Homo sapiens: one gene and its partner. The protein of the gene in region 1 binds, or shares a complex with, the protein of each later gene. Each region holds a gene or a part of one and is shown on either strand. Other genes may lie near its edges. A codon is read from its position in the direction of its gene.

Region 1 (17,331 bases):
TGATCTCTGCTCTAGATCACATCTCATAGCATTCCTAATAAAGTACCTCTCTTGCGTGACCCTGCTATAATTTTACATTATTATATGATTAGTTGATTAGTCTAAGTCATAACCATACCCTGACTATTTTTGTTCAAAATACCTTTCACCATGCCTGGCACACTGGTGTTATCTACAGGTAACCTTATTATATAAATAATACTAATATGAAAAATTGCCACTTACTTTATCCTGCAAGCTAATTTACACCAGAACAATCTGTGTACATTTACAATCTGTTCTGGTGTAAACACTTCAGTGCAAAATACTTCGACAAGTTCTATTAACTTGAGTGCATAAAATTTTATTTTGTAATTTAAATGGAAAAGTCCCTTACATTGTGAATCCCAGAACTGAGTACATGTCAGCTATGGACTGACCCTTGGGTGAATATATTGTATCTATAGGAATACTCTGTTTAAATGTAGGTACCCCTTAAATGCATGGCTCAGTAATTTATGTGAAAATAGCATAGCTTTTGTGACATGGTGATTCTGAGCCGTAACTCACTGCAAAGGCTCTGCATTCAGACAGCAAGTGGTCAGGTCCTGTACAAGTACCTGTGGCACTGATGAAAATTAACTGTGTGAGTTCGTGAAGCATGTAACCTTTCTAAATCTTGGCTTTTCTCATCTGTAAAATGTGGGTAATAAAAATACTTCCTCTTTGGGTTGTTGCAAGGATTAAATTAGAGAATACAAACAAAGCACTTAGCTCAGTGCCAGTCGATCATGGAAGCTGGCATTGTTGATGATGATTTTTCCTCACAGAGAAGAGATGCTTAAAGAAATAATAAGATTTCAAGCACGACTGGGGCAGGAAATTTTAGACAATGGAGGATTTTTCTCCTTTTAAATAATACCACTAGCGAGGTGCTGTCTTTACTGAGTCACGTTCTGATCTACAGAGCAATCTGTGTATTCTAGATGCGACTCAGGTATCCACTTTCATAAAGAAATAATTACCAAAGCTTCCATCTGCTAGTGTTTTAAGAACCCTTAGTCATTCTCTGTTTTAAATCAGTAAAAGCCATTGAGATTAGAGCTGAAACTGACTCTATTTCCATCAAAGAGTTCAGAAAGAAATCAACAGCCACCCATGATTCTCATTGTGGATATGTGACATCTCTTGCCACAAAGTTCACCCTGACTTTCTGGGAAACTGTGAAGGCACAGATGTATCTATAAAAATTAATCTAAATCAAGGACCTATCTCCTTTGTCTCCTATAAATCTGCTAGAGTACAGACCCACTAGGCCTCATTTAAAAAACACTAGATTGATCATCAGGGTGGAAGAATTACTGTGATTAGCCAAATGCCACTGATATTTTTGGAACATAGACGGGACCTTAGCTTTCATAAAAAATACTCTCAATTTAGTGATGAGGAAAAACATTTTAAAAAATGAACGAAGGACACAAATAGACATTTCTCCAAAGAAGATGTACAAATGGCCAATAGATATATGAAAAGATCCTCAATGCCACTAGTGTCTGTCTGCTCAAACTAGTGCAAATAGTCTTGTTCTGGTGCTTAACAGAACTGAAGATAACTCCCCTTGTTCTAGGCACTCTATTTTCATTGTTGTTATCCAAGGTCACATGAGCATTTCCTAACTCCCTGGGATGCCAATGCTGAAGAGAGCTGGAATGTTATGCCTCTGAATCAAAGTTCTGTTCCTACTAACAGAACTTTCTAGAAAATTTCTTCACATTGTTAGTGTCTATAAAATAAAAACTTTCTTATAAGATGATGATGATTTGCCTAATTATTCCTTTGACAAATGTGGTTGCCTTATATCCAATCTAGTTGCTACAAGGCCTTTTCGTTTATATTCCCTTTACTGAGTAAATCCTCATTACCCAGAACAGTGCTAGATGCTAAAGCACAAGGAGAAGTCCCTTGGAAAGATAGGATTGAGAAGCCAACACCCCCATGGTCACATCTTCCCAGGAGTTTTTTTTACTCCCCTTCAGGTGGTGGAATTTTCCATATTATCCCAGATGAAGACAGTGTAACACAAAAGTTTCCCTTCCCAGCCACAATCGACACAGGTGAAAAAAAGCCTTTGTTGTTTAAAGTCACTGAGAGTTTGGGGTTGTTACCTCAGCAAAATCTAGTCCAAGTTACTGACTCAAAACTGGATCTGAAAGTGGAGCATTGCTATAGAACTCTAAAGTATATGGCATTTGTCTAGGGGCCAGATAATGGGCAAATAAAAAAGTATTATTAGAAGCTGGAAGTGTCCATGTGGGAAACTAATAACTTGCCCTTTTAGTTTATAGGTCTCTGGAATGAGAGGATCCTCATATGGATGTGACAGAGAGAATACTGTTCTATTTTCTGCTATAAAGAACATCTTGGATGTTCTCCAGAGATCCTGGATTTTTAACTTGCAGCTGTGACTGGGCTAGGAATGTTGGGGTATCTGCAATAGAGAAGGGAGAAGAGTCTTTTGCCTGCAAGAAAGAATGTTTGTGTCCAGAGGAGCACAACATATAGTCATTAATTCTATTTACCAAGTAGTTTTGGCTTTCTCCTCCTAAGCACATAGTGAGATGGTTCTTTGTGCCCTCCTTAGAATTAGGATTTCCCATGTAACTTGATTTAGCCCTCAGATGTGAATGGAAGTGATCTCTGTCATTCCTAGGCAGAACATTTAAGTAGGGTCCCCTTGGGAATCCTCCTTTGGGAATTGTAAAAACACCAGTTGGAGCCTGAATTCCAATGTGAGATCAGTGTAGGACCGAGACTACTGGACAACCCTTGATGACATGTAGAATGAGCAAGAAATAAACCTTTATTTTAGTCTACAAAAATTTGGAAATTTTTGTTACTGAAACATAACCTAACCCAAATGACTGATATACTACGTGAGTTTCAACTATTCCCGTAATCTGCATGTGCTTCTAATGGCAGGGATAAACAAACAGCCTACCTTGTAGGCAGTATTGTAAAGATTGTATGTGCTGATACATGTAAAAGCTTACAACAGAGCCTGGAAAGAATAAATGTTCAACAGATGTTATCTAGTGTTATTGTTTTTTATTTTATAGATTTTAGAAAATGCTACTGGTACTCCCAAATCATAATCCCTTGGCCCACGTGGTTTTAGCTACAGCTGGGAAGGATGGCCCTTTGCAAGCTCAGACTTACCCAGGCTGATAGGGTTGCATCATAAGTCTATGCCACATTTCTATTTTTCTACTCCATAGCCTTCCCTGACACATGGAAGCCTATGCAACCCATGAGCAAGAATAGCCCAGAGATATAGGGGAGTTATTGCCCCAGGAGCAAACCTCAAACAATAGGGGACAGAAATTGGTGGGTAAATACTGATTTCTTATTTTTCAGGGGAACGATTGAGAGGTTCTCTCTTCACTTATCAGGAAATCTCAGTGGAATTGACTCTAAATTATTGTTCTTTTAGGTTTTCTAAATATTAGTTCCCCCTCTGTCCATGGGTGTCACCCAAATATTTTTTCAAATATTTGAAAGTGATCCTCATGCCCCACTTTTTTCCTCTGAGTCTTCTTCAGGCAAACATCTCCACTTGCATCAAATCTTACCTACAAGATATTGAGCCCCTTGCTATTCTCACCATCTTCACATAGTTGGTAAGTACAGGTGCAAACCTTGGTGACCTGGGGAACAGATGTCTATATACTTTCCTAGAAGCTATTCTGACTTGCTATACTGCACTAAAAGTTAATTAAAAGCTGGAAGTACTCCTCATTTTAGCAGCTCCAAGCACATCTCCCAGTTTTTAAATCTTGTAATAGTCTTTCTGACCCCAATAAAAAGAAAGACATCCCCATCATGAAATTATCATTATTATTCAATTGCATATCCCATTATTAAATACTTATTTAAATATTATGTTATTTAAAATAATTTACACTGAATATTTTACCAGGAACGATTTAATTCTCCTAGAAATCCTGTAAAGCAATACTGCTATTTTACTCATTTTGCTGATGGAGTAACTGAGGCTTACAGAGTTTAATTATGTTCCTTATGGTCACATAGCTAGTAGGAGGCAGAACCAAGATTTGAATCCCAAAGCTACGCTGCAGTCCGTGCCTTTATTACTTCTATAGCATCTCCCTGCATTGAGCCTGCTACTACATTCTGTACTAGACATCATCCTTTTTGATTAGACCTACCCTGTCACAATGTGGAAATGCCTTTGAATTTTAGATTTGTTGCCTCATATATTAAGAAATATTGGCTGGGCACGGTGGCTCACACCTGTAATCTCAGCACTTTGGGAGGCCAAGGTGGGTGGATCATTTGAGGACATGAGTTCAAGACCAGCTTGGCCAACATGGCGAAACTCCATCTCTACTAAAAATATACAAATTAGCCAGGCATGCCTGTAGTGTGCATGCCTGTAGTCCCAGCCTGTAGTCCCAGCTACTTGGGAGCTACTGTGGTACATGCCTGTAGTCCCAGCTACTTGGGAGTTACTGTGGTGCATGCCTGTAGTCCCAGCTACTTGGGAGGCTGAAGCAGGAGAATCACTCGAACCCAGGAGGCAGAGATTGCAGTGAGTCGAGATTGCACCACTGCACTGTAGCCTGGGCAACAAAGTGAGAATCTGTCTCAAAAAAAACTACAGAACTACAAAACACTGCTGAAAGAAATCATCAATGACACAAACAAATGAAAACACATCCCATGCTCATGGAGAACAGAATCAATACTGTGAAAATGACCATACTGCCTAAAGCAATCTATAAATTCAATGCAATCCTCATCAAAATACCACCATCATTCTTCACAGAATTAGAAAAAACAATTCTAAAGTTCATAAGGAACGAAAAAAGAGCCACATAGCCAAAGAGAGGCTAAGCAAAAAGAATAAATCTGGAGGCATCACACTACTTGAGTTCAAACTACACTATAAGGCCATAGTCACCAAAACAGCATGGCACTGGTATAAAAATAGGCACAAAGACCAAAAGAACAGAATCGAAAATCCAGACATAAACCTAAATACTTATGGCCAACTGATCTTCAACAAAGCAAACAAAAACATAAAGTGGGGGAAAGGACTCCCTTTTCAACAAATGGTGCTGGGACAATTGGCTAGCCACATGTAGGAGAATAAAACTGGATCCTCATCTCTCACCTTATACAAAAATCAACTAAGATGGATTAAGGGCTTAAACCTAAGACCTGAAACTATAAAAATTCTAGACGATAACATTGGAAAAACCCTTCTAGACATTGGCTTAGGCAAGAAATTCATGACCAAAAACCCAAAAGCAATTGCAATAAAAACAAAGATAAATAGCTGGGAGCTAATTAAACTAAAGAGCTTTTTCATGGCAAAAGGAACAGTCAGCAGAGTAAACAGACAACCCACAGAGTGGGAGAAAATCTTCACAATCTATACATCTGACAAAGAACTAATACCCAGAATCTACAACAAACTCAAACAAATCAGTAAGAAAAAAAAATCCCATCAAAAAGTGGGCTAAGAACAGGAATAGACAATTCTCAAAAGAAGATATACAAATGACCAACAAACATATGGAAAAATGCTCAACATCACTAATAATCAGGGAAAGGCAAATCAAAATCACAGTGCGATACCACCTTACTCCTGCAAGAATGGCCATAATCAAAGCATCAAAAATCAGTAGATGTTGGTGTGGATGCGGTGATCAGGCAACACTTCTACACTGCTGGTGGGAATGTAAACTAGTACTGCCACTATGGAAAATAGTGTGGAGATTCCTTAAAGAACTAAAAGTAGATCTACCATTTGATCCAGCAATCCCACTACTGGGTGTCTGAGGAAAAGAAGTCATTATTCGAAAAAAATACTTGCACATGCCTGTTTATAGCAGCACAATTCGCAACAGTAAAATTGTGGAACCAACCTAAATGCCCATCAATCAGTGAGTGGATAAAGAAACTCTGATATATATTGATATATATGGATATATCATATATGGATATCCTATATATCCATATATATGGATATATCATATATAAATACTATATAATATATATTATATATAATATTATATATAATATATCTTATATATATTATATATAATATATATAATATACAATATAATATAATATATAATATAATATAATATAAATATAATATATAAATATATATCCATATATGGATATATAATATATAAATATATTTCCATACATATATATGAATACTACACAGCCATAAAAAGGAATGAATTAACAGCATTTGCAATGACCTGGGTGAGATTAAAGACTATTATTCTAAGTGGAGTAACTCAGGAATGGACAACCAAACATCATATGTTCTCACTGATATGTGGGAGCTAAGGTGTGAAGATGCAAACGCATAAGAATGATACAATGGACTTTGGGGACTTTAGGGGAAGAGAGGGAGGCAGGTGAGGGATAAAAGACAACAAATATGGTGCAGTGTATACTGCTTGGGTGATGGGTGCACCAGGTTCTCACAAATCTCTACTAAAGAACTTACTTGTGTAACCAAATACCACCTGTACCCCAGTAACTTATGGAAAAATATTTTTGTTAAAGAAAGAAATATTTTCCATCTTCCTCAGCGCTAAGTTTATAGTCTGCCACTGTGCACCCTTATAACGATCCTTACATCTAAATGAGATATTCTCATTAAACTTTTCCTATTTCATTAGAAAAATACGTTAAAGTTTGTAAATAGTGATTTTAACATCAAAACTTGCCTTTAACTAGAGGGCCCTAATTCTGGCTCTGCAATACCTATTACATGTCTGTAATTATTATTAATGTTATTGATCAATTTTTCCTACTTTTCCATCTTCTGTGCACATGCTAAGACAGCACTTCCTGACCCTGCTGTAGTCGAATGGGTACATATGATTAACCTTGGTCAATGAGCTGTGAGAAAAACTGGCAATGAGTTACTTACTTTTGGGCTAGAGCCTATAATTACCTACTTAAGACCATCCAGAGCTCTCTTTTCCTCTATCACAATGATAATCAAAATTCCAGAGAGTGACCACTGCATCAGCCTAGGTTTATGAGTGAGCATAGCATGAGACAGACCCTCAATACATTTGAAGTACAAGAGAAATAAATCTGTATTGTTTAAAACCACCAAGATATGTCAATCATTTGTTACAGCAGCGTAAACTATCTTAACTTGAGAGATGACTTATTCTTGGACAAGTCACTTTCCCTCTCTAATTTTTAACGTCATAATCTGATTTAACAAATAAAGGGAAAAAATTAACATTTAGTGAGCATCTCTTAAGTATAAGTTGCTTCGTTATATATAATTTAATTTAGTCTTCTCAATGACCATAAAAGGTATTATCTCCTGCAAAAATATTCCTAAATCCAAAGAAATCTCTCAACTCCACTGCTCATAGAATCCAAGCCACTACTATGTCTTACTAGCCTCTTACCTACCTTCTGTTAAAATTTCTCCCTCGTTAATTCTCCAGTGCAAAATCTTTTAAAGACTTCTCCCTGCCATTTGAATCAGAGCTAAACTCTCTTCCATGGCCTATAAGAGTTTACATGAACCTGTACCTGCCAGCCACTTCAATCTAAGCATTCATACTTTGCTGACCACTTATTAAATTCCAGTTATTCTGGTCTTCCTGATATTTTTAAAACCTATCCAGCTTGTTTCTGCCTCAGGACCTTTGCACTTGCTATTACTTTTGCTGAGTAATACACTTCCCTTAGCTCTTTCATGACTGACTTCATCATTCAGACCTCAGCTAAAGTGACATCTCCTGAGATAAGTTTTCTTTCACCATCCTTGATAAATAATTATTTATCAATTACTATCTGAAATTATATTATTAATTTATTCATTTGCTTGTGTGTTTTCAGAATTCCCTACTGCAAGAAAAGCTCCACTAGGGCAGAGACCTTGTCTTGCTTGTACACTAGTGTTTCTACAAAGCTTAGAACATTCCCTGGCAAATAGTGAATCCTCAAGAAGTTATTGTGGAACGCAATCGAATTAATGATGCAGATAAGGAAATAAGCCTCTAAGAGTTTGGGTAACTGTGCCAACTTTCCTAAATTTCTATGAGTGTTCCTAATTCTGAAGTCCATTTGCCTTTTGCTTACAGCAAAGCTCTGCTGAGACTGAAGAGTCAGTTAGCAGTCAGGGCTAGGCACTGTGCATGCGCCCTTTCAGGCTTCGGATTCTATCGTTGATGCAGTTAAAACCAAAAAGTCACATTAATCATGTTATCACATTAATCCCCAGAGAACCCTGAATTTCCAGTGGAACAAGATAACTTGAGAAATCTATTGATCTCCTATTTTCATCATGCTGTACGGCTGACAAGGGTTAGTGGAGATTGGTATTCTTTTGCCCATGGCCCTGCAACTTTAATTTCTATGTCTACCCAGATTCCCACAACTTTGCAACCTGCATTGCTCAAAGTGCCCATCCATGAAGTTCGAGTGGCTTCTTTTGTGTCAGCTCTGCCTTCCCAGCTCCTTCCCATTCAGGGAGAGGTCTCTGCCTCCTCCCCTGCTTCCTGACTCGAAGCCAGCACCCCTCTCCTCCAGTGCAGCCTAACACACTCTCATTGGCCCTCAGCCTGTCAAGGGGAGGGGCTTGTGTCTCCGGGGCTCTTCAAAAGGGATCGGCGGTCCAGGCAGCCTAACCTGGAGGGTGAAACACTCACTCTCTCCCAGCCTTCCTTACGAAGCCTGTGACTTTCGTGACTGCTTTCTCTTTTTTGTTTTCCTTTTTTCTTTTTTTTTTTTTTTTCCTGGCTCAGCTTGAAACAGAGCCTCGTACCAGGGGAGGCTCAGGCCTTGGATTTTAATGTCAGGGATGGAAAAACTTCAGAATGCTTCCTGGATCTACCAGCAGAAACTAGAAGATCCATTCCAGAAACACCTGAACAGCACCGAGGAGTATCTGGCCTTCCTCTGCGGACCTCGGCGCAGCCACTTCTTCCTCCCCGTGTCTGTGGTGTATGTGCCAATTTTTGTGGTGGGGGTCATTGGCAATGTCCTGGTGTGCCTGGTGATTCTGCAGCACCAGGCTATGAAGACGCCCACCAACTACTACCTCTTCAGCCTGGCGGTCTCTGACCTCCTGGTCCTGCTCCTTGGAATGCCCCTGGAGGTCTATGAGATGTGGCGCAACTACCCTTTCTTGTTCGGGCCCGTGGGCTGCTACTTCAAGACGGCCCTCTTTGAGACCGTGTGCTTCGCCTCCATCCTCAGCATCACCACCGTCAGCGTGGAGCGCTACGTGGCCATCCTACACCCGTTCCGCGCCAAACTGCAGAGCACCCGGCGCCGGGCCCTCAGGATCCTCGGCATCGTCTGGGGCTTCTCCGTGCTCTTCTCCCTGCCCAACACCAGCATCCATGGCATCAAGTTCCACTACTTCCCCAATGGGTCCCTGGTCCCAGGTTCGGCCACCTGTACGGTCATCAAGCCCATGTGGATCTACAATTTCATCATCCAGGTCACCTCCTTCCTATTCTACCTCCTCCCCATGACTGTCATCAGTGTCCTCTACTACCTCATGGCACTCAGAGTGAGTATCTAGGCTGGGGTGGCCTGAGGCAGCATCCCTTCTTTTTTCACAGGCTCAAAGTTCAGAGAAAAACTTAGAATTGGGGAAATTCAGAAATGGAAGGGAACAGAGGGAAAATAGAATGAGCTCAGATGGGAAATTGAGACTTAAAAGGACTTGCCTCAAATGAGATGAATGGTAACCACAACTATTTATCATTTCCTTTAGCTCGTCTTCTATTTTTCTTCCCTCTATTCTTGGGGTTCTCGTATCTAAATGTTCCTAAGAATCATGCAGAAAACTTACTTTGGGAGCAATATGCATACCTCACCCCCAGGAAAATGGGATTCAGAAGGTCTGAGGTGGAGCCTCATTTTAAATAAGCACATCAGGTGATCTGGGGTGAGGTGGCCACACTTTGAGAGACTTCTCCACATCCTGTTGTCACTTTCCAGCCCCTGGCCACTGCCTGCATTGAGATTTTCCTGTACACCAACTTGGTCTGAGTATAACACAAACTATCCCTGCCTATTTTGTAGTCCAAGATAGGTATTCAGTTTTAAAATCAGACATTTACTGTGGTTGCTCCGACCCTTTCATTAAAATGAGGTTGAAACAAAACAAAATAAAACTATATATATTATATGTATAGTTACATATATAATATATAGTCATATATATAATATATAGTTATATATAATATATAATCATATATATTAATGACATGACTGAGATAACTTGAGCTTCTTTTGAGCAGGTGCAGATTGAGAGATAAGGAAGTAAACAGCACATGAGATAGAGTGAAAAAATGTGAATAAGAGCTTATCTGAAATTAAGAAAAAGATATCACTTATTTTGCAACATATATAATTAGAGGTTCTTTTCCTATGTTTATGGTGGTAAACTGATTTCTTTTTCAGAAGGGGGGTGTCTAAATTAGCTGAGAGAAACTATTTTTAATAAGGGTAGGAATTAGTCTATATAATTCCTCTCTGGTATATTCTGCACCCAAATTCATGAAGAGAAAAGTTCTTCACAATGACAATTTTACACCCACTTAAGGGAGGTATTATAGCTTGTGTAGTAAACAGTTACGAGACCATTTAGACTCCCAGATCTACAGCTGACATATAATATGCCTTTAGGCAAGCCACATCATTCTCCTGGAATTAGTTTTCCCGTGTATAAAATGAAAAGGTCACATCAGATCCTATCTATGTCCCCTGTAGCTCTAACAGTCTATTATTCCTTTAAAAAAAGAAAAAAAAACACCTGTGAGCTGAAGTAATGTGAGTTTTAAATGACAGGACAAACAGATATCACATTCACATCATTTGCTTTGAGATGGCTCTGACATCACACTTTATGTGACAACTAATATACTCCTATTTCAGTCCATCTCTGAGAAGCCGATTGTCAGAAGCGAGTGCCCAATGGTAGTCCTTTTGAATACCTATTGTCCCTAAGGTGAATAGCGAGGTCTAAGTAGGAAGAACAAATTCTAAGTGTCACGGACATCTGGGCACAAGAGTAAATCTAATTAGGCAGAGAGCTGTGCCAGTCCCCTCCTGGAGGGCTAGCACCTGTATTCCCAGAGACATGTCCCACCCCGCACTAGCTCACAGCCATGTCTTAAGAACGTCCTGCACATCTCACTGCGGGGAAAAGACTTCTATACAACTCCAAAGAAAGTCTTATGAGAAATACCCACCCACTTAATATTACCTCATCCAATGCCAAACAGTCACCTATTTTGGGTCAATTTGGGAAAAATATTTAACTTTGAGTAGGAAATGCACAGTTCCTCTTCCAATCTGTTACAATCAGTTTCATTGTGTTTTATTATCAAAAGTCCATGGCTACCTTGTATCAGGAGGTAAGTGACAGCTCAGACAAAAGTTTAAAAACCACCCTGGTTTGCTTTGTGTATGTAATGCAACTTTTGACAGCCTGTTTTCAGGAAGGATGAGCTGTTATCCAGGGTACCAGAGGACACCAGGAAAGAAACTAACGCTTACAAAGTCACTTCTAGAAGAATTTAAAAATCTCTATACTGAAACTCAGGAAAAGTAGGCCCTATTCTGTGTCACTGATCGCAGGGCCTTTATGTACACTATACCTGTAGCCTGAAATGTTCCTACTGTCTGCCACCACTCCCCCTTTTGCCTTTCTAACCCTCATTTATTCTCTGTGTCATACTTCAACACGCTTCCTCAGGGAAGCTCTCCCAGATTCCCTGAGCATCCCTGTTTCCTGTTGTAGGTACTCATGGCTCTCCGTGATTTTCCTTCATTACAATTTATATTTCCATACTTATGGATTCCTTAATTAATTGTTTTCTCCCCAACTAGACTGTAAGCTCAGTGAATGAATGAGGCCAAATTACTTCCTTCATTGCTGGGCTTTAGCTTCTCTACCTTTAAAACAAAGACTTGGAAATATCATCTCAAGGAGACCCAAGCAATCCTAATGATTAAGTGAGTGACTCTGTTGGATAGTTTGAAGGTATGATTGACTCTGGGACCCACTGCTTTCAGAAGGCAGCAAGCCCAAGACTGATGAAATCACAGGACCAGAGAAGAAGGAGGAAACCCATATCTGTGCTCACAGCTCGGCATTCAGTCACGCTGCATCATTCCAGGACACAGCCACCACTGAGCTGTTCTCCAGGCTTTGAACATTATAGAGATAGAAAATAGACAATTCTAGGGCAAGTCCCTCCACATGTGGGAGGAAGTTCTGGTGACAGTCTGATTTAGTTCTTACATCTCCTGCATGCTGCATTCATGATTGAGGTGATGAGGATGGATGTATGAATTGCAGCAGAATTCAACCATGCCAACACAGGGTTGCACTAATTTTTTTAAGTAAATAGATTGTGTTAAGATTATAGAGATATTTACACAAAACCTATATTATAATCTGGTATTCTGAAACTAAGTCCCACAAACTATATAAATGAACATCTGGTAGAGTGATTTCAGGCAGTATAAACAACTGATCAGCATAATGTATCAACCTGAATAATAACCTCGCGAACCTCCCTTTCACTTTGCTCTTCTGTAGCTAAAGAAGGTAATCACAATTTTTAGTAATCACACTATATAGTAATGGTAATCACAACTTTTAGTAATCACAATATTTAGTAATAGTAATCACAAATTTGCACTCCTCCTTTTGTAACCTGAGTTGTAAAATAAAAGTTTTGGGGTGGGGAAGAATAATGAATGGTTGAATATCTACTTTACTAAACATCTGTAGGGAAGTGAAATTATTCAACGATAAAGCAGCATTGAATATTGGCTAGACTAACTGTTTTGATTCTATTCTATTCTGTCAACCACTCCAAATTCTGTTGGAACAATGTACACCATATGTAAGTAATCAATTTTTCACTCTTCCTCTAGTTAGCTAGTTAGGTCATTATAAACTAAGGAAGCTGCAAAATAAGCAACAATTCATCAGCACATGATTTTCTTTTTAGTGTAAACTATGCTGCTACAGGAAGCCTGTTCATAAAAGAATTGCGTGAACTATTTGTTTGATGTTTGATTTTTTTAAAAATTGTTCCTTGGGGTGGAGAAATTACCATTGAGAACTGTTAAACACAAGGCAGGAAGTGACTAATATATCTCAATATTTTTTATTGTTCTTAATTATGAACTGAAATAAAATAATAGAATAACTGCATAATGTAAAAACCACAATCTTTAAGTGGCATGAAGTAATTAGAACCTTTAATAGATTTAATCTAAGATGAGTTAGTAAAGTTTGAAGTTTGATACATTGCTCTAACCTTGAATGTGTTTTTCTTCTCAGCATATCTGCCTCCTTTGTATCAGTACAGGCACTCTTTGTGAGCGAGTGGTAACATGAGAAAAGAATTTCTAGAAGGGACTCAGTACTTCACAAAAGTAACCTCACATATATAAACAAACAACTCTAGTTTTTAAAAATCATTTTTTCTGATGTCTCTTTAGTATACTCTGGATAATAATCAGAATCACTGTAATAACAGTAATATACAACTTGCTGAGTATCATGTGCCAGGCACTGAGATAAGCACTCTACCTGCATGATTTTGTTTTACTATTGCATTAATAATACTTTTCACCTTCAGATTTTTCCTTTCTAGTCCTAATCTCACAGAGTCTTTAATCCTTTACTTTATGAAGACACAGATACATGTAGAACACTCCGATATATTCAAGAGACAAATGGCCAGGTTTATACATTATCCAAGAGGATTCTTGAGGTCCTATGTGGTCCTGAGTGCTACCTAACTGCAAGCAGCATATATGTTTGTTAGGAAGACTGGATATGGATTTGCTGAAGTTTCGAGGCAGCTTTTAAAGACCCACTCTTCCAAGTCTATTTAATTTTAAATACCTTTTCTGGAATATTCCTTCAAAATGCTATCCAGCCCAGGACGATTATTGCTTCTTATAGCAGTTTGTTTCATTATTGCACATAATCACAACAATTTCTTCCTTATCTTGAATTAGAATCTATCTACCTGTAACTAAATAGATTGATTCTAATCTACTGCCATGACTGTATAAAATAAGTTAAATTTTCGTTCCACCTGATGGCTTCAATCAATTAGCCTGGACTTTTTACACTGCCAATGAGAGACTCCAACCCTGGGTAAATACCAAAGGGAGCATAGACATGAAAAGTTCAGAAGCCGAGCTAGCTCTTGGTGAAGATTAATTAAATAAAACACACGATCTTATTATAAACCTAACTTTATTTCTGTTTCTTTGCTCTTTTTTTCTATGGTGTTGGTTTCAACCTCAAACTGCACACAGTCATCCTTTGGTGGCTCCAAGCATTTTTTCTTTGTGGTGGAAAAAAAATAACGTTTGTAATTCCAGACCTCATATGCAGAGAAGGACTCTCTCTGGCAGTCCCAATAAAAAATAAATGAAAACTTGCATCTTCAGAAGCACAAGCAAATATCTGAAATCTCATTGGTCTGCATTATTCAATCATTGTGACTGGAGGATAGGACAAGTTGATTGGCTAAATTGTTTAGGGACTATACCTGGAGCTGAAGTTTAGTGACACCTCTATACAAATTAAAGACTAAGAATGGGGAAGGAGTACATTCCCTAAGGGAAAATTAGGGTGCTATTATTAAGAGAAGAGAGAAGTAAATGCTAGAGAACTAATGGGCAAATATATATTCACTATGTACTATACTAATTTCTGGATATTTGATGGTATTTTATCATGAGTCCTTAAAGCTTCCTTTATTTGGCCAAACATCCCCACAAATTAAAAAATGTGTAAAATAAAGAGAAAAACTTCCACAACTGGATGAATGATGTAGATCTTCAGTGCTGTGGGAGTTCAAAGGAAGGAGAAGACAGTGGGCTAAAGTGGTCATCAAAGTCTTTCAGGAACAGGCAGGACTTAAACTGAGCAAGGAAGATTGTGCATACAAGTAGTGTTGATAGCTGAAAGTTTCAAATGTTACATCAAGGATCTCCATATCGTCCAACAAGGATGAATATACTTTAAACATCTTAACTCAGAAACACATAAGACTTTTCAGTAATTAATATTACTGTAATATTAAAACAACATTTCCCAATTTGTGTTTGTCAAGATGGTACAAGGTAATCCACTGAAAAGGGTTGGGGGAAAATATTGTTTACTCAAATAAACACTATCTCCCTTTTGGCTAAGATATGAGTAGGTGATGTGAGTGTGGAAGGTAGAGGGGAGCTAAGTGGAAAGTTGATACACTATCCCCCTTGAAAATTCATAATGCCCATCAGCATATTTAAGTCTCTGAGAAGATCCACAATAAATACTGATGAGGCAAGAAGAATTCCTGTTTTGGTTTTCTACTAATTATCCACCACAGAGCAGAAGGATTTCACTTTAACAGATTTCTAATAATTATGAATGAGTGAATGAATGAATTGAGAAGCCTTTCTAACTTTTCTTGAACTTCAGAATTTTACATTTTTCATGGAACACCTATTAACATGCTACACAGCCAAGTTTCCACATAACTGTATACGAAAAGTGGTTGCACTATTACTTGGCCACAATCACTTATCCAGTTGAGTAGATGACCTGAATCCAATTCCACCTTCAACATACTGTTAAACATTTGACGTAGTCTTACATTTCTCTAGGTCTCAGTTCTTCTGTCTTCAAAATGAGCGTTTGAGTTATGTTTCTCAGATTTTAACAGGAGGAAAAATGTTTCTCTTTCTTACTATCTCTCCCAACTTACTTCCCTTTCAGCTAAAGAAAGACAAATCTCTTGAGGCAGATGAAGGGAATGCAAATATTCAAAGACCCTGCAGAAAATCAGTCAACAAGATGCTGTGTAAGTGCCCCATTTTGTTTTTTGTTTTGTTTTGTTCATAAGAGCAAAGGAGGTACATTTGGTACCAACTAAATGCTGCTGGGGTAGGTTCCAATTTATCCTGAAACAGAGTATTTATGAGAGTAGATTAAGATCAAGGAGCAAAGGGGAGAGATATATAATGAAGACACCTCCTTAATGGTCTATGTCAACGCTAGGTGACCTGTCTTCCTTTGCTTCTTCAAGCTTCTAGGACCTGTGTGTTTTGTTTCATTTTTGGTTTTGAACCCTCAAAACAACACTCTCAGTTTCATCCACTGACATACACTCTGTGTGGTGCTTGGTAAATTACATTCACTTTCTCAGCCTTTGAGCTTCACTTTCCCCCTCTGTGAAATAAGCAGGTTTTTAACCTATTTGTATTATGGATTTCTTTTAAAATATGATGAAAGCTGTAGACTCTCCATTCCAAAAAAAAAAAAAAATGAACAAATATGCATACACAAAAGATTTTACAATCCATCTCAGGAGGTCACGAACCAACCCCTGATACTCATAGACTCCATGGGATCTTTTAGTTCCAGGTTAAGAACATCTGGCAAGCATCTCCAAGTAGCCATTTCACATATGACATTGTATAACTTTGTTTCAAACAGTATACTTTTGAATAAATAAGATCTTTTTAAAAATTCACTTACTGAGCCACAGTCTCCCAAAAGAATGTTATAAAAATATATGATACAGCACTACTATATGAGAGGAGTTACTGATGAGGGAAAGGAGATTTATAATACATTTTGCAAATCAAAATCTAAAGTTTAGAAGAAATGAATCCTCCAGGCTAATATGCATATGAAACATTCACTGTAACTATACAGCATTTCTGAACAAAAAATAAACTGTGAAGTCCCTGAAGTGGGTCTTCTCGATTCTAAGAGTTATCTTCTTGGAAATATTTTAGCTCCTCTTGGCACTTGACTTTCTCTATCAAGAAACATAGTTTCTTCATTATCCCTCCCCTTTTCTCCTTGGTCATAATCTACTCTCACAAAAAAAAAAAAAAAAAAACATGAAGCTCACTCATATTAAAGTCACAATAGCAGAATACACTGTAAAGTATTTGCGTTGGGATGGGGTTCAACTTTAACAGGAATTAAAGTTGTTTGTTGTTGCTGTTGTTGTTGTTGTTTTTGAGATGGAGTCTTGCCCTGTTGCCCTGGCTGGAGTGCAGTGGCATCTCGGCTCACTGTAACCTCTGCCTCCCAGGTTCAAGCAATTCTCCTGCCTCAGCCTCCTGAGTAGCTGGGATTACAGGCGTGTGCAACCACACCTGGCTGATTTTTGTATTTTTAGTAAAGACGGGCTTTTGTCCAGGCTGTTCTTGAACTCCTGACCTCAGGAGATCCACCCCTTGGCCACCCAAAGTGCTGGGATTATAGGCCTGAGCCAC
Region 2 (9,929 bases), on another chromosome or scaffold:
CCTTTACTAAAAATACAAAAATTAGCTGGGTGTAGTGGCGCATGCCTGTAATCCCAGCTACTCGGGAGGCTGAGGCAGGACAATTGCTTGAACCATGGAGTTGGAGGTTGCAGAGAGTGGAGATTGCACGACTGCACTCCAGCCTGGTGAAGGAGCAAGACTCCATACCAAAAAAAAAAAAAAAAAAAAAAAAAGAAAATTTCCAACCTAACATTAAAATATAAACTCTCTCATACTATTGGTTACATTAAAACGACAGAAGTGTCCTCAAGTTGATTAGAGATTGCATTTTCTCATTTTCCAGTATCAATATGTGAGACACTTAGTTTTCATTATGAAAACGAATTATGAGAGTTTTGTTTTTGAGGCATTTCATTCAAAGCACGTATCAACAACCATTTGTTAAGCACTGATTATGATTTTAAAGGCACCTTAAAACTATTATTTATAATCAAATAACAGCAAATTGTATTGACGGCTTATACATTCCACACTCCCCTCTAGGTACTTAACATGTACTGTGAACTTATTTAATGCTGACAACAACCATTAAAATTAATGGATTATTTAATCCTTATTTATTTTCAGATGATATAAATGGAGGCAGAGCAAAACTAAATTATTTGCCCAGATTTTCCCAGTTAATAAGAAATTGAGCCAGGATTTGAAGCCAGACGGGGTGCCAGAGCCTAGGATTTTCACCATCACTTTCTACTTCCAACATAACACACTAAGCAATGATGATGCTACCATCTGTAATAATGATTACAGTATCAACTAAATTCATTTACATAAGGTGGTTCTGCAAACGGCAAATGATGTAAAAAATGGTAACTGTGCTCTTAAGTAGCTTCACATCTAAGGAGTAAAAAATAGCTCTGATGAAAGACATTAATAAGTATCTCCTTTTTTAAATCTGAAAAACTATTATGGCTCAGAGGAACTCAAGGGCAGAGTGGGGATAGGCGAAACACTACTTACACATTTTCTGGAAATAAGGTAGCATCTTTGGGGTCCTCTGACAGACATGGAGTCAGAAGCTCTAGGTTTAAAACCTTCATCTGGTCTTGCTCAAGTTAATTAACCTCTTTAAGCCTTTTTTGATCTCTAGTTACTGTCAGTATTCAATGAGAACATATGGATTTTAATCAGTACTTTTTCAGTAACAAACTGAATTCGATTAAACTAGATTAGGCATAAAAAAGTAGACTTTTAGAAGGTTACTGAAATGAAGAGAATTTTAGAAACCACAAGCGCCTTAGGGACTTTAAGAATGGCAACTGGGACAATGATTGGCTCACTCGTCCAATGCTGGAGGACTCGGATTGGTCAGGTCTAAGCCTAGAGACGGAGAAGTAAGAAATGCGATTGGCAGCTCTATCAGAATCATGTAGTTCCCAGAAGGGCACCCTGAAGAACAGATGCCAGAGGAGTCTAAAAGAGGTATCACAAACAAATTTAAAAGTGCCAAATTTAAAAGTGCCAATACATTTTACACACCATTTTAAAAGTGCTAATAAAAATAACATTGACAGACACAAATGAACACTTCCCACATTGTAGGCACTGCTCTAAGCATATCACATGTAGTAAGTAATACAGTACTTGGAGGAAAGCCCAGGTTATGCACAGGACACTATTTGGATACAGTGTAGAAAGGAACAGGCCTCAGGTGATGAAGAGCATTAAATGGCAGGCTAACTTATACTTAATTTTATTGACAAATCAGAGCCAATGCAGATCAAGGAATAGAAGGTGATAGGGCCACAGTTCTACATTAGGATAACTAACCTGGGTTTTTCGAGAAGAGAGAAATGGGAGGTGGGGAATTTAACTAATAATGCCATTTTAAGAGGAAGTTTAGCAAAGACTTGAATAGGTAGTAGTAGGAATAGAAAGGAAAACAAACAAAAAACAGATTTAAGGCTTTGTAGAACTGTCAGTAAATTGAAATGGAGATTAGGAATCAGAAGAGTTCCACCTAATGCATGCAGGGCTTAAAACTTAGATGACAGGTTGATAGGTGCAGCAAACCACCATGGCACATGTATACATATGTAACCAACCTGCATGTTCAGCACACGTATCCCAGAACTTAAACTAAAAAGTTCCCCATTGAAGGAATAAATGATGATGGTACTTAGTAAGGAAAAATGGCAAAGTCAGGGTGAGAACTGGTGTAAGGAGAGAATGATGATGAATTTAGTTTTGAATATAATGAGTTAAAAAGCAGGCAATGCATTCTCAGAAGGGGATATCAAGAAGGCAATTCCAAATGTGGCATCACATCTCATAGCTTGGAACAGGGAAAATCTGAGCTTCTGGAGTAGCTGAAATTGTAAAAAGAGCATAGAAAAAGAAGAAATGAAGAAACAACAGACTGATACTTAAATTCTAATCCAAAATGTACTTAGCCAATAGGTTTGTAAAATTTTAAAAATTTAAATTTATTAGGATTTATTAACACAATTACACAGAATAAAGTTCAGGATTTCATTAATGATGGTCACCAATATGTGCTTCTTTGTGGCTTTTTAACCCATAATTCTCATGATTCAAATTTATTCATATTATAGTTGAATTTCATACACAGCTTCACAATGTGGATATTACAGGTCCACCAGTAAAATTAATGAAAACATATCTTTCATGAAAGGCACATAAAGAATCTAAACTAACACATTTAAGGAACTTTGATAACTTTGAATTTCTTTACATTACAAAGAAGAAAATCCTCCAAATGAAACAGATATGAATATAGTTTATGGTTACACACACACACACACACACACACACACACACAAATATACTTCAACCCAGTGACAACACGTAACTTGGAAACTACTTACCAGCAACGTGTACTGAAAGACTAACCTTTTCCAAGATGAGTAAAAAAAGGAGGGTGGGGTGGGGAGTGCTGTTTACTTTGCTGAAACAAGGTCAGAGATGACACATCATGAATAATCAAAAGAAAATTATTCTATCAAAGCTCAGTATCTAGCTGATACATAACACTTATTTGAGCACACATATAATCACTGACTTATTAAACACTATTACTCATTTTCTAAGTGTAATCGTCCATTTCATTCTCAGAAATAATAGTATAATTGAAAAAGAAATGATATAATCTCAAGCAAGTGGAGAAATTTGAATTATCTAAGGGAAAAAAGTAATTTTAACATAGTGTGATAATTACATTTGAAATTAGTTATATGTATAAATTTAAATCTTGCATTATATCAGCAATAGAGTATTCAAAGATCCTTCTTGTTATCTTCCCAACAAGGAGCTATCATGTATGCTAGGTACAAGAGACTCCTCAAGGGAAATAAAAGCCTCACCAATCAATGTCTCAAAATTCATTATGTCCACAGGTTTTTTTTTTACCCACAAAAATGCTCTTAGGATCCCTCCAAACTTAGTTATAAACAAAAATGTAGTTATTTAAAGTGAATAAAAATTAAGATGACATCACCTTTGAGGCAATGCATTCATATCAGCCAAATATTAAAATTCAGAGTGAAAACAAGTGAATAAAAACTAAGTGTGTACAATAAGTCTAAGACAGTATATCCTCAGAAATCTGAAATTTTAGTTTTTCAAACCAAATCTAACGTGGAATCTAATGTAAAATTAAATTATTTTATTTTCTTAAAGTAGGAAAAATCAAAATGCATACAATGTTTAAATAGTTGATCCAAAGGCAGGTGTATTCATCTTAAGAACATTTCAATAAAACACATAAAATTTAAAGAACAAATCATGTTATTAAAATAGTCTGTGCAATGTTTGTACAAATAACATTTTTATTAATACAAGTATACATATAATCTAGATAAGGGCTGTAATGTTTCCTAATATTAATTACTGTACTTAAAAATTTACAGGACATGAACATAAATAAAGCTGTTTAAAACTGGCAAACGTAGTAATAGTCTGTCATTCAGTACAAGGTATATTTATGTTATTTCCAAAGCCATCACCCTAAAATCCTAAGTTGCCACTCTTAAAACCTAAAAATAATGTCGAAAACTAAAGTCATAAATACATGTATACATACATTTGCATATTTACACTTATGCAGAAATCATCAATATACTAGAGCCCAGCTTTAACACTGTCCTTCAGTTTCACACTGCAGGACCATCTGTCACATTTAAGAAAGGTCCTTCTGTTACTTTCAGTTAAAAAAACAAAACAGAACAACTTTGGTCAAGTCCCAGATGCATTTGCCTTATATTACATTCTGTGTTGCTGCAAGACTCTAGTCTACAGAGATCCATATATAAGTACTCATTTGGTTTGAAAATGCATTTTACCATGAACTGCAAAACTTAAAAGAGACCACAATCTTTTAGATTATTTTTTATGATGACATCTGTTACAGCATCAAAAACAAACTGCACATTCTTAGTATCTGTGGCACATGTGAAGTGGGTGTATATTTCCTTTGTGTCCTTTCTTTTATTGAGGTCTTCAAACTGACATTGAATATATGCAGCTGCCTCTTCATATGTGTTTGATCCTGAGATGGAAAAAGGAAAGAAACATAAATGCAAAAAGTTAAAATAACTGCTTAAAATACTGAATTCAGTTTCATACATATGAAACTGAAGTCAGTTTCATACAGTTTCATTCATGGACTCCTTAACTGTGCTTTCCCTTCTAGAATGGGAGACACTATTTCTTCTAAATGAAAAACACTCCATGTTAATTACCTTTAATGACTAAGTTATCCCTTAAACAAAAAATTTCCTTTACATGGCATTCCGTGTTCATCATGATCTTTGTTCCTGCCTCAATCCTCAAATGCCAGATCTTTTATCCTCTTATCCTCTGTCCTCTACACCCCAGCTCAGATGCTTGACGACGGCATGCTATTTCAGTTCTGGCCCAATGGTGGATCAAAAAATGTTGGCTGAATGCTGATCAGTATTTTTTCCTCCCTTTTCTATATATACATTAATTTGCATTCTTCACTCATTTTTCTTTATTCAAAAATTGTACCAAGGTCTACAATGATGTTTAGGAGTATGAGGTTACAAAAAAAGTGAATGACACACTCCAGCTTTCAGGTTATTGACTATAAAAGACTTCCTCTGAGTACAAACACTCCAGAAATTGTTTGGCAATATCTAAAGATAATCACACACACACTCTGACCCCGCAATTCAGTTTCTAGATATACACTTGACAGAACTGTGTATCACTGAAGACACAGAAGAAGTGAGAATGAAAGTACTCAGTAACATGAATTAATCTCCTAAGTGTACTGTTGAGCAAAAGAAGCTAGATGCAAAAAGATCGCATACTGTATGATCCAACAATGTTTGAAAAATGAACTGGTGAGGACAAAAACCTCACCAATAGTGTCTGTGGAACATGTGAAGTGGGTGTATATTTCCTTTGTGTTCTTTCTTTTATTAAGGTCTTCAGTGATTATCAGTGAGTAATCAGTGATTACTATGTGTATGGGTTGTGATTGTGTTATGTGTGTGTTGTGGGGAGGGTTTGATTGGTTAAGACTGAGAGGAAGCATGATGGGGCTTTCTGGGGTCCTGAAGCTGTTTGGTTTCTTGACCTGAGTGGTGGATACTGGTACATTAACCTTTAAACACGCACTTATGCTGAGGGTGTGTGTGTACGTATGTATGTATGTACATAATATTATAATATACATTAATGTATATAATGTAATGCTCTATGTAATGCTTCAATAAAAAAACTGAAAAACATTCAAATTTCATTTGGAAAAAAACTGTTTAAACCCCTCTTTTGTAGTAATAATCCAAAATTATCTGCCAGACTTTCAAGGTCCTCTACTACCCAGCCTGCTCTGCAGTGCCATCATTCTGAGATCCTCTCCTCCACACTGGCGCTCACCCCAGGTCCATGTCGTGAGGACCTAACATGCAAACTGCCACCTGTGGTACTGTAGTACTTCCTCTTCATTCTACTTCACCGGCTGAGATCTCTGCCTGCCTTCACATTTGCTCAAAATTGGCACTCCATCTAACTTTTCCTAATTAATCAAATCTAGCTGGGTTCTCTATCACTTAAAAACTTTTTCCTCCTCCTAGAAATAACTATTTCAGTTTTTGTTATATTGCTTTATAGAGTCTTAAATTCTTTTTCAGTGCTGAATCTCCTAAACTAGAATGTGAACTCTTCAAGAGTAAATATCATACCCCACAAGCCTCATACTCCTTTTATATCTTATAGAATCCAGTGTAATACAATGTGACAAATGCCCATAGGAATGTTGTGTAATGTGCTATGACAGCATAGATTATGAGATTTTTATTAGGGATAAAAAGGTACTAAAGCTATCGTCTTTAAGTTTACATTTTAACTCTTTTATATCACTAGAAATCACATACTTTTAAAAATCAAATTTTATTAAATCATAAGTTTCGTTCTCCAAAATTTTAAAGCAATCAACAGCATCTTGTTGGCCCACAGAAGCTAATGCAACTGCTAAATTAAACTATGCTTCAGCCAAACAGCTTACATTGAGTGCCTAGCTCAATTTGCTCTATATATCCTAGGCAGCTAGCTAGATTACCCTAAAAGCTACAACACATATGAATGAACATTCTTCATTCTGATTTTAAGTCTTAAGAAACAAATGGCAAAGCAGGGACAGGAGAGCAAATATGATAGATTGTTTTTTAATGTGTGATAGAATTGTCCTGAACAAAGGTAAGTATAGGTGATAACCAGGTTCAAAAATGAAGAACTGGGAGGCTGATGACACAATCAAAAGGGAAAGAGAAGAGATCTGAGTGTAAACAAGAAAAAGAGTTCTGTTTGAGCTTCAGGTGCTAACCAACCAACCAACCGACCAACCCAACCAACCAAACAACAACAAAACATGTATGTTCAAGCAGTTGCTAATGTAAATCTAAGGCTCCAGAGAGAAATTAGGGCTGACCACAAAATTTAACCTATTGAGAATAGATACGACTATGAAAGGATAAGAGAGCTAAGATGACGTGACTGCAGATGAAACTGGTGAAGTGGCAACATACAGGAAAAAGAAGAGGAGGAGAAGGGTAACACAGGAGCAGACAGACAGGAGATAAATCAAGTGAGTTGTTTAGGGGCTACACAGGGTTCTTCCACAGCCACAGGAAATTGAGAGTTGCGGCTGAAGCAAGAAGCAACTGAATCAATACTTTGGGCATGCCATGGAGATCTTAAACAATAATCTTAACTCTGGGGATGTGAAAGAATTATGTAATATTCTTTTTGTGCAAAGATTCTGAAGTCAGGTATTCTTATTAACTTAAGCAAAACACAAGCAAAAATTCCTAAACACACTGTCTACTTGGCAAGGAAAGAGCTAACAAGTATATTCTTAGTTGCTCTAAAATCCCCGTAGGTATACAATATTTATGGATTCACTTGGGGAATCTGGTACTATGAATTAGTACAAAATGGCTACATCATAGAATATGATAAAAATAAACTGAAAAATATATTCAAATAAGGGAAAAATTAAGCCATCTTGACTCTGGGTAGCTTATTTCTAATAAGCACAAAAAAATGTTGCTGAATACAGTGATTTAGGACTTTGACTTTCAAAAAGAAAGCAAAGTTTTAAAGTAAGTAAATGTGTGAAATTAGTTTGAACTGAAGTGTAATTTCACCGTACACAAAAAGAGCTATAAGTAACATGATTATATTTACCAAAGAACCCTCCCCTTTTGGTTCCACTGAATGTTTAATTAAATGTAGCCTAGTCGTTCATGGTCTAGGAGCAGGAGGACAATGGACTTGGGTCTGGAACTGGACTCTGGCTTCAGGAAGCCCCGGTATTCTCATTTGTATGGGTAGGGATACCTGAGCACTGACATCACAGGGTTGTCTTAACATTTCCTGTAAAATGGCAGTGAATACTCATCGTACAATTTACTCAACACAAGACTGAGGAAAATTCTGTTTATAAAAAAACAAATTCTTGAGACTTTTAAAAAAAAAAACAGGAAGAGTGGGGTGAGGGTAAATAACTAAACTCTTCAAACTATCTAGATTTGGAGATTACATAAACCAGTGGTAATCAAACTCCCTGTTTTTTTAAGGCATACTGAATGCTCTTCACTAAAGTAAAACTTTACTCAATACATAAACCAGATGAAAGCTGAGTTACTCTGCTTTAATGAAAAAGTTATAAGGTGGTGGGTGCAGGGGGCAGTAATTAGCTCTGTTCCCTCTCCCATTTCCGCCTTCAACAGCAACCCAGGAGGTGCTCCAAGGAACTAAATTAAACTAAAACTAATGTTTTAGCCCAACTCCTGACTTCACAGATGGAATACTGAGACCTAGGTGAACTAACTGCCTTGTTCAAGATCAAAGAGCTAATTATGGAAAAGTCAGGACTGTACTTCAGGTCTACTTTCCTCACTCCAGGGAATTTTCCATCATAGTAAAATTAAAGCACTATTAACAGTCTCATTACCAAAGTTTTGGCTTCTTGTGAAACCTTCCCTGCCCTTCTGGAAGAGTTAGCTGCCTCAATGATCCTGTCTTCATTTCCCCTTACTATAATGTTCATGTTCCTTATTTTAGCAGTAGGTTGCACTGCTATTGCCTGTTGTTTAAGTATGTCTGTCTTTCAGATTAGATGGTGGGCAGAGACATGTCTTATTTATTGTACATCACACAGTACCTGATATGAAATCTGTTAACTGGATTTAAAAAATAGTATTTTAACTTGGAGTCATCACTAAAAATTATCTAACTGCTTTTCCATAAAATGAATACATTATTTTCAGTAATTTCATCTACATCTTAAGGAAATTTTTATGCTCAACTGCAGTTTGATAAATAATACCCCTTAAAGGTCTAAGAATCACTAAGCCAAGAGATTTAAATTAACAACTGAATTCTTGCCTTAGGGGAAGTTTCACTTAGAAATATGTAACTTGACAAGTTATTCCCAGAAAAGGAAAATACCTGCATATTCTGGATAGCATATAGTGAGAGGGCTCTTTTTGATTTTTTCTTCAAAGAGATCCTTCTTGTTTAGAAAAAGTATAATGGATGTATCTGTAAACCACTTGTTGTTACATATGCTGTCAAACAATTTCATGCTTTCATGCATTCGGTTCTGTAATAGAAAAAAATAAAACCAATCGTCACTAACAGCAAGGATTTTTGAGGACTATTTTAAAAAATAAAAGGTGTTGTAATAAAACAGAGTTTAGTGATTGAAAAATACGTATCACAAAAATACATTTCTGCCATTTCAGAACACACTTTCACTTTAGGTAAGAGAAGTGTCTAATCATCTTTCACCACTTTTTGCATTCAACTTTTACTTGCCAAGTGCCCACTATATGTCATGCTCTGTGCCAGGGAATATCCTGCTACAGGACATTATAATCTAGGGATGTGAAGTGTGAACATGTGAAAAGAAATGACATTGTCATAGAGTTCATTTCATCTAAATTTCCATTAGAAGATAAATAGAGGTTTTTAAAGATTAATAACTTAAATTGAACAAGCTAAGACCCAATTAGCCCAATACTCTAAATATTATAATAAATATAAATACTGGAAGGACACTTCCAATTCCTGTTTCTTGACCTTCCAGGATCTGTGCTCATCAAAGAGGGCACTGATACATTTTATAGTGCTGAAATGAAAGAAATGAACATGTGGTGTTGCACTGCACCTACTACACTATAATTTCATATACTTGATTTTAAAAATACAATCGTCTCTCGGTATACTCAGGGGGATTAGTACAAAGACCTCCAAGGGTACCAAAATGTGCATACACTCAAGTCCAGCAGGCAGTTCTGTGGAACCCACACATAGGAAAAAGTGGCTTTCTGTATACTCAGGTTTTGCATCCCATGAATGTGCTTGGTTGAAAAAAATTTTCATATATGTGGACCCATGCAGCTTAAACCCGTTGT

Evidence for each region.
Region 2: the proteins of NMUR2 (region 1) and GNAI1 are in contact, whole or in part, in a cryo-EM structure (PDB 7XK8), measured with the Homo sapiens proteins. Residues at the interface, in NP_064552.3 of Homo sapiens: Thr78 (codon at 9,080), Thr80 (codon at 9,086), Glu143 (codon at 9,275), Arg144 (codon at 9,278), Ala147 (codon at 9,287), Ile148 (codon at 9,290), Pro151 (codon at 9,299), Phe152 (codon at 9,302), Ala154 (codon at 9,308), Leu156 (codon at 9,314), Met239 (codon at 9,563), Leu243, Gln259, Cys262, Arg263, Val266, Leu330, Ser331, Arg333; in NP_002060.4 of Homo sapiens: Glu28, Ala31, Arg32, Leu194, Ile343 (codon at 4,376), Ile344 (codon at 4,373), Lys345 (codon at 4,370), Asn347 (codon at 4,364), Leu348 (codon at 4,361), Lys349 (codon at 4,358), Asp350 (codon at 4,355), Cys351 (codon at 4,352), Gly352 (codon at 4,349), Leu353 (codon at 4,346), Phe354 (codon at 4,343).

Annotation. Positions count from the first base shown.
Region 1 is NC_000005.10:152,396,631-152,413,961, reverse strand, and holds the start of NMUR2 (neuromedin-U receptor 2), read left to right. Parts: upstream 1-8,682; 5' UTR 8,683-8,848; coding exon 8,849-9,574; intron 9,575-15,817; coding exon 15,818-15,902; intron 15,903-17,331. UniProt on the Homo sapiens protein: Receptor for the neuromedin-U and neuromedin-S neuropeptides.
Region 2 is NC_000007.14:80,211,902-80,221,830, reverse strand, and holds part of GNAI1 (guanine nucleotide-binding protein G(i) subunit alpha-1), read right to left. Parts: intron 9,116-9,929; coding exon 8,962-9,115; intron 4,529-8,961; coding exon 4,338-4,528; 3' UTR 1-4,337. UniProt on the Homo sapiens protein: Guanine nucleotide-binding proteins (G proteins) function as transducers downstream of G protein-coupled receptors (GPCRs) in numerous signaling cascades.